3 separate regions of the Homo sapiens genome follow, and regions 2 and 3 are each linked to region 1. Evidence: fine-mapped expression QTL. A gene starts in region 1. Each other region holds a variant in brackets. All regions are shown on one strand. Distances are between the middles of the regions.

Region 1 (2,764 bases):
GAGGCAGAGGTTGCAGTGAGCCAAGACTGTGCCACTGCACTCCAGCCTGGGTGACAGAGCGAGACTCCTTCTCAAAAACGAACAAAAAAACAAACAAACAAAAACAAAAAAATTAACGTTGGTCTAATTTAGAATTGTTTTGATGCAGAGAAGTGAATTACAGTTAAGGAACTGTAAGGCTGAATGTGATAAAAGCTTGAACTCTAATAGTGACTGTGGAAACAGAAGATCTGGAGCAGAACAGGATGTGAAAGGTAATGGGGAGAAATCAATTAATAAATATTCACTTTATTCAACCCATTATCTGTCAACCACTCCCTTTACCTTCATTTTATCTGCACTTTATTCGTAACAGTGAAGGAAACCCCAATTAAAAACTTAATTGTTAGTGAGCAATCTCTTAAAATTTAGCTTCAAGCGTAACAAGTTTACCTTCATGGCAAAACTAGACGGCATCATATTCTTAGGCCACTCAAATTCTGTTGTATGAATTCGTATGCCAGATTCAAGTAAAAGTGTAGCTTTAAAGTCCGGTCTGTAGAAGAAAAAAGTCGAATTTTTCTTTAGGGTATATGCCAAAGCTAATTGCTAAACAGGCTTAAAATGTAGGTTAAAAAAAATCAGTAATCTCATACTTAATTGTCAAAGAGAAAATAAGCCTATAAAATGTTCTTACTTTTGAAGACGAATAAGGTATGTCTTATTATCCACATCATAAACATTGTTTACTCTCATTCCTAGCAAGCTGCAAAGATAAAGGAAACATGTAACATGTTACACTATTGTCTGAAACATAAAACTACACATAATTTAATAAAAGCTTCGAAAGAGCGGATCTCAGTCTCTAAGGATATGGAGTCAGCCGAGGAGCAGAGTCTGAAAGCCATTTGGAGATTCAGTTCAAAACTTAAGAGTAACGATTTAAAAACAGAAGTGGTCTATCAGCTCTAGGAACAACACACTATAGCTTGCGTCTTCCAAATGACCCAATTTTGGGGGAGAAATACAGTAAAATATAATCCAATTAATTTATTACAAGGGAGAAAAAAAAAAGATAAAAGAGGGCCCCGAAAATATGACAAAGCTCACAGGGCTGAATAATAGAATCCAGACTAGAATCCAGATCTCAGTCCAAATCTGCTCAATCCAGCTAAAACCGCGATGCTCTCTCTCTCTCTGGGGTGAGGGGAGGGAGGTGTTCAAGAAACCAAGCCCCCAGTCTGGAAACCTCTGAAGCAAACGACCACTCTGGCGTCTCGTGTTTTAACAAACGTTTCCTGCCCAACCCGGACAACCCAGGCCAACAATGCAAGAGCTTCGCGCTAGCGGGGCAAGCCAGAGAGCTGGGAGGACGCGGGGGATGGGGCACGAGGTGCCTGGGACCCCCAGGGGTATCCTAAGGGTCACGGGAAAGACACCACACGCCTGCCCACTCAGGCCTAGGCAGGTCCATAGACGCACTAGGAAATAAGGAAACATATCAAGCTGGTCTGTTTGCGCCATGGGACTCCGGCCTCTGCCTCCTGCACTCCCCACACGAGCCTCGTCACTTAGGGTACTGTACCTAGCATTCAGCTCCGCGAGTACGGCGCGGAGGTCAATGGTGCTAAAGCGGCTCTTCATGGCGAGGCCCGAGGGTCACTACCGCAAGTTCCTCTACTGCCCGGCCGGACTCGACGCCACTTCTCCTCCGCGCAGGCGCACTTGGCGGAGCTCTACGGCCGCGCAGAAGACCCAATATTCCTCGAGGCGAACGTATTTGTGTCGCTTTTCTGAAGATTTCGATTGTCAAGTTGCAGCTGACTCTCTTCATTGTACCAAAATTCAAATTCGAATAAAGATTCAAACTGTTCTCTTGAAACTGCATTCCTTCCTGGAACCCTTACGGACCAGTCTGGTTACCGTGCCCCATTGTGTCTTGGGCTCAAGTCAGCCTTCATAGTGACCCCTGCTGGTCGAAACAATTTTCGAGATGATTATCAGGAGTATTTCCCCACAGGGGGGCCGTAGGGCTCAGTGTAGAAGAGCAAGGACCCCTTTCTGCGCGCTTACTTTGACATAAGATTTTGAAATGTAACGAAACGGAACTGCTTCGGTCCTTCTAAGATTATCCTCAACGATCGAGGCGAACTCTCAAAACGGAGTTCCTATTTTGATGGGTCCTGCTCTCGGAAGGAGCATTCTGCAATTGATTACAGGATTCTCATCGAACCTCGGTCTTGGTACCCCTGAGACTCACCGCAGTACCTGGTGTACAATCGGTGCTCCATAAACACTTGGCAGCATGAATGTGCAAGTGTTTAGCTAGATAATGGTGAAATAAGATAAAAATAAAAACAAGAAGATTCCCAATGGGGGTGGGGTGGGAGGGGGGATTCACAGTGTAGTGAGGAAAATAGTCCTGTAAGAATGTAAATTCTGCATTTCTTTTGTCTTAGGATAGATGCATGGGAAGAAAGGCTACTTTATAAGGTGAGAACTCAAAAGAGGCAGGGTCTCACTATGTTGCCCAGGCTGGAGTGCAGTGGCTATTCACAGGCGCAATCCCACTACTGATCAGCACGGGAGTTTTGACCTGCTCCGTTTCCGACCTGGGCCGGTTCACCCCTCCTTAGGCAACCTGGTGGTCCCCCGCTCCCGGGAGGTCACCATATTGATGCCGAACTCAGTGCGGACACCCGATCGGCATAGCGCACTACAGCCCAGAACTCCTGAACTCAAGGGATCCTCCAGCCTCAGCCTCCCGAGTAGCTGGGACTACAGG
Region 2 (2,764 bases), 310 kb before region 1:
TAGAAAGGAAATAGAAGAAAATAGCATGGCTTCTGGACTTAAATTTTTATAAGGTCAAGAACCTTGTTAAATCCCTAAAGCCTAGCAAGTGTCTAGCACATAGTCATAAAACTGTAAATAATTGTTGGGCACAGTGCTCACCTCTGTAGTAATCCCAGCGCTTTGGGGGGCTGAGGTGGGAGGATCACTTTAGCCCAGGAGTTTGAGACTAGCCCGGGCAACATGGCAAGATCCTGTCTCTACAAAAGAAAAAAAATTGTAATTAGCAGGGCACCATAGTGTGTACCTATGCTCCTGGCTACTAGGGAGGCTGAGGTGGGAGAATCGCTTGAGCCAAGGAGGTTGTGGGTGCAGCAAGCCATGATCATGCCACTGCACTCCAGCTGGGTGACAGAGCAAGACCCTGTCTCAGAAAACTGTAAATAATTATTTAATGTGATTGTTTTAAACATATGTCCATAAATTCTTTGATATGCCTCTCCTTAAAAGGTAGAGTTTAATTTCCCTCTGAGTGTGGACTGAACTTACTGGGTCACATATATTGATTAGAATATGGAAGAAGTGATAGAAATATCACTTCCAAGATTAGGTTGTCCAAAGACTGGGATTTCCACCTGCTGTTCACACTCTCTCTCTCCCTCTTTCTCCTGGATCCCTCACTATGAGGGAAGCCATGTCATAAGCAGTCCTATAAAAAGGCCCACATGGCAATGAGCTAAAGCCTCCTGCCAACAGCCATGAGAGAACTGGGAATGGATCCTGGAGCCCTTCAGATAATAGCAGCCCAATAGCTTAACTGCAACCTCGTGAGAGACGTCAACCCAGTGTCTTGGTTCCCAACCTACAAAAACTATGAGATAATGTTTTTTTTAATTTGTTATAAAATTTGGGGTAATCTGTTACACAGCAATAAATAACTAATAATGTGGAAAGACAATAAAATTCCAGATATCAGTAGTTTGATTAAAGAATAAGGGCAAAATACCAAGACTAGGAATAAGAGGGGTTACACTGGAAATGGAGTTATCTGTGTGAATAAAGGGCGTTGGGAGAAGCAAACTGACGCTTCTCCAAATGTCAGCATGCCAATATAGAAAAAGCAGAAAGAAATATGAACTATAGCAAGCTCAGTGGAAACTGGATTCTTAAATTCATTGAGGTCTCTGTTACTGTGGGGTACACTACCAAGAGAAACTGAGTAACATTAAACAAATGCAAAGTGCTATCAT[T/C]AAGGAGCAAGTGAACAGAAACTTTTTCCCTTGGGGAAAGAGAGCAAAGACAAATCATCAGACCATTAAAAAAGATCAAGAATTAATCTTTACTCTTCTGCAGCTAGAACAAGGAATACCAGATAATACAAACTCTTTGTATTCAGAGTCGCTTTTTCTGGTCACCTGAATATAAATTAATAAAGTGTTTGTATAAATTCAATCTTAACTAGATGAATTTCAATAAACTTTCCATAATTATACATTAATAGATTCCCCAGAAATTTTCCACCATGTTCAACTTTTCCTAGGCAGCTCTTGCAGCTTTTTTCCCGAAGTTTGAATTACTATGTGATGACCCTGTTTGTCCCCCTGGCATTATGATGGGGGTGAAGTCCAGCAGGGCTAAGACTTGAGTTCTGGTCCCAGCTCTATCTAACCAGTCACAGGACCTCAAATAGGACCTTTCCTTTCTGAAACCTACCTCCTTATATGTCAAACAGAGTTGATAATGCCATACTTCACAGCACTGATGTCAGAATAAATAATAGATGAAAAAGCGCTTGGGAAACTGTAAAGTACAGTGCAAATTGGAAAGGTGAATTCCTTTTAGTGGCCATATTTTTCAAAGAAGGCCGCCTCTCAGCTACTGTCCTTTCCTCCGTCATTTTAGATCTTTTATTAATAGGAAATGTTCTCTCCAGTATCCGCTCTCCCTTTGATTATAACAATAACGATATATCTGTGCTTTCACCCACCCGCCCACCTCCTTTCCTCTCCTGTTGTTCACATTATTATTTCTGCCTTCTCAGAGCCTGCTCTCCATTTCCTTTCACTCCCTCTCTGCCTTCCTCCATATGGGAGACATTTCTCCCCAGTAACTGCTTCAGGCCTGCCCTTGAAAAAACCATGGTGGAGTCATTCTGTTATCTCTTTTCAGGAGAAAGAGCTACCTGCCCAGCGAGGGCTTGTGCCACAACTCTAAATGTCAGGTCTGAATTACCTGGGCCAGTGCAGTCCAGGACTGCCTATAGCCCAGGGATACTTACATTCTGACCAACACTTTCTCGCTTTCCTAAGGCACCAAATTCTCCAGTGTTTTAAATTCCAGGAGATCTTATCTCCTACCAAGTTGGCCTACACCGCTTTCCCACAGGGAGGCAGTTGGTGATTAAGAACATAGGCTTCAGGTCAGGCCGAGGCAGGCAGATAACAAGGTCAGGAGTGCAAGATCAGCCTGGCTAATGTGGTGAAACCCCATCACCACTAAAAATACAAAAATTAGCCGGGTGTGGTGGTGCACACCTGTAATCCCAGCTACTCGGGAGGCTGAGGTAGGAGAATCACTTAAACCCGGGAGGCGGAGGTTGCAGTGAGCCAAGATCACACCATTGCACTCCAGCCTGGGCAATAGACTGAGACTCCATCTCAAAAAAAAAGAGAAAGAAAAAGAACATGGGCCTGAGAATAGAATGAGTCACCCTGGGCAAGTGACCTAAACTTTCTGGGCTCCAGTTGTCTCATGAGGATAATGTCTGCCTCCCAAGGTCACAGGT
Region 3 (2,764 bases), 280 kb after region 1:
CACTTGAGGTCAGGAGTACAAGACATGCCTGGCCAACATGGTGAAACCTCATCTCTATTAAAAATACAAAAATTAGCCGGGCGTAGTGGCACACACCTGTTATCCCAGTTACGTGGGAGGCTGAGGCAGTAGAATTGCTTGAACCTGGGAGGTGGAGGTTACAGTGAGTTGAGATTGCACCACTGTACTCCAGCCTGGGTGACAGAGCGAGACTCTGTCTCAAAAAAAACAAAACAAAAACAAAAAGAAAGGTCATGGCAACAGTTTTTTAGGACGCTCAAGGCATTTTTCTTGTTGAGTTTGTAGAGGGTCAAAGAACAATAACATCTGCTTACTATGGGACTGTTTTGAGAAAGTTAGCCAAAGCTTTTGCAGAAAAACAACCAGGAAAGCTTCACCAAGGAGACCTTCTCCACCACAACAATGCTCCTGCTCATCCCTCTCATTAAACCAGAGCAATTCTTTGAGAGTTTTGATGGCAGATCATTAGGCATCCACTTACAGTCTTGACTTGGCTCCTTCTGACTTTTTTTGTTTCCTAATTATAAAAAAAAAAATTAAAGGGCAACCATTTTTCTTCAGTTAATAATGTAAAAGAGACTGCAATGATATGGTTAAATTCCCAGGATCTTTAGTTTTTTAGGGATGGACAAAATGGTTGGTATTAGCGCTTACAAAAGTGTCCTGAACTTGAGGAAGCTTATGTTGGGAAATAAAGTTTATGTTTTTATGTTTATCTTTTAATTCCATCAAAAAAATTTATCTTTTCATTCCATTTTTCCATGAACTTTTTTTCTTTTTTCTTTTTTCTTTTTTTTTTTTTTTGAGACGGGGTCTTGCTCTGTCACCCAGGTTGGAGTGAAGTGGAGTGATCTTGGCTCACTGCAACCTCCGCCCCCAGGCGTGCACCACCATGCCTGGCTAATTTTTTTGTATTTTTGGTAGAGACAGGGTTTTGCCATGTTGCCCAAGCTGGTCTCAAACTCTTGAACTGAAGCAATCTGCCTGCCTTGGTCTCCCAATGTGCTGGGATTACAGGTGTGAGCCACCATGCCCGGTCTCTATGAACTTTTTGAAGTCCCCTCATATATCACACAATTGTGAAGATGAGATAGCATGAAACTACCTGACTTCCTGCTTCACCTAAAGTTGGTTTGTGTTTTTACTTCCTTCTATATCTTGCTTCACTTTTAGCTACTTAGAGTTCATCTTCTACTACTTCTGTTGCCACTGCAAACTCCTGCAGTAACTGGAAATTGTAGCATCAAATTCTAGTGACAGAGATGGGTTCCAGAGGCAACTATGGACCATGGAGCCCTAATGGCAGAAGTCATATCAAGTCACAAGAACCAAAATACATTTGCTTACTCCTTCCCAGGTCTTTTCTTTTTTTTTCTGTTCCATTCAGCTACCTATTAAGTTCTCACTTTCTCACACCTTTTTGTATTATTCTAGGAGGGATCAAAAGTAGACACATAAATAAGTAGTACCAAGATAAGGCATAAACCAGATTTTATCAAAAGGCTGACATTTCCCCCCC[C/CA]AGTTTTAGAAATAGTATATTACTGCAAACAAAACACCTAGGAACAGCCATTCAATTACATTTTTAAGATAACAGGTTGTTAAACATTGAAAATAATATTTTAAAAAACAGAACACTTGTTCCCGAAATTATAAAAGACTTACAAATCGAGGTGGCTGTTTGCAGTTTCGAGGTTCAATTTCTAGTGACTTGTTGAACAAATAATCTGTAAACTCTTTTTCAGATGCACTTCCCATGGGGTTAAGGTTTTCAAAGAATCTCTGGAATTAAACAAATAACACAAGTGCATATATAGTAAGTATATATTTTAGATCTTATTAAAATAAGATCTCATTAAAATTTTTTGCTGAAAATTACTTATTTAATGCTAAAAAATAACACATTAAGAGCCCACAATATGTGAAAAGTTCACAAGTGTTGCTTATTCCAATCTCTTTACTTCTGAATAAGATTATATAATTTCTGTGGAAGTTATATTCTAGTCTTAAAGTTCTATTAAGAATATGAGTTTTCATTTATTATCATTTTAATGGCTCAGCAGTAGCACTACTTATTCCTTAGGAAACTTTACTCCTACTCATTGTAACAAATGATCATCACTAGTAAGCTACCAAAAGTGTTTAGAACAAAGCTATGGTTATAATCCACAATGAAGTTTTGATAATCAGAAAAAAAGTGGAGATAAATTAGATTAAGGTCTGTTAATCCAATTTATAGATCATTCTTGATCATTTATAATTACTCTGGAAATTCCTTTTACTTTAAAAGTAGTCATTTAAATTACTTTAAAAGTAATGTCAAGAATGATTATAGGCCGAGCACGGTGGCTCACGCCTGTAATCCCACCACTTTGGGAGGCTGAGGTGGGTGGATCACCTGAGGTCGGGAGTTTGAGACCAGCCTGACCAACATGAAGAAACCCCATCTCTACTAAAAATACAAAATTAGCTGGGCGTGGTGGCGCATGCCTGTAATCCCAGCTACTCAGGAGGCTGAGACAGGAGAATCAATTGAACCTGGCAGGCGGAGGTTGAGGTGAACCGAGATCACACCATTGCACTCCAGCCTGGGCAACAAGAGCGAGACTGTCTCAAAAAAAAAAAAAAAAAAAAAGAAAGAAAGAAAGAAAGAAAGAAAGAATGATTATAAAGTTAAACCTATCTGTGCTAACTTCTAGTATAAAAAATGTTTTTATCTGAGCCAAGCCATGATGGCTCACACCTG

Which allele goes with the higher level. Positions count from the first base shown, and alleles are read on the strand shown. Sizes are in standard deviations (SD) of each study's normalised expression. Not every link is listed here.
In carriers of allele CA in region 3, the expression in unexposed skin of the gene that starts at base 1,658 in region 1 tends to be higher than with C alone (small effect, 0.32 SD a copy in GTEx).

The links. PIP is the estimated chance that this variant, and not a neighbour inherited with it, causes the effect.
Region 2: its variant is the best candidate, but not a certain one, in a credible set for the expression of NEMF in whole blood (TOPMed, PIP 0.81).
Region 3: its variant is the best candidate, but not a certain one, in a credible set for the expression of NEMF in unexposed skin (GTEx, PIP 0.68).

What each region holds. Positions count from the first base shown.
Region 1 is chr14:49,851,131-49,853,894 of GRCh38, forward strand. NEMF (nuclear export mediator factor) reads right to left here and starts at 1,658. Exons shown (of 33, transcript NM_004713.6): 1 at 1,565-1,658; 2 at 677-745; 3 at 433-535. The coding sequence starts at 1,623. It also overlaps RN7SL3. RefSeq lists an enhancer at 1,665-1,904 and a silencer at 2,708-2,764.
Region 2 is chr14:49,542,938-49,545,701 of GRCh38, forward strand. LOC107984701 (a long non-coding RNA gene) reads right to left here. Exons shown (of 3, transcript XR_007064154.1): 2 at 142-239. Among named protein-coding and RNA genes, the nearest start is that of RPS29, 42 kb to the right of the region's middle. The variant T/C (reference allele first, on the strand shown) is at 1,230.
Region 3 is chr14:50,132,440-50,135,203 of GRCh38, forward strand. SOS2 (SOS Ras/Rho guanine nucleotide exchange factor 2) reads right to left here. Exons shown (of 23, transcript NM_006939.4): 19 at 1,684-1,800. Among named protein-coding and RNA genes, the nearest start is that of VCPKMT, 17 kb to the left of the region's middle. The variant C/CA (reference allele first, on the strand shown) is at 1,541.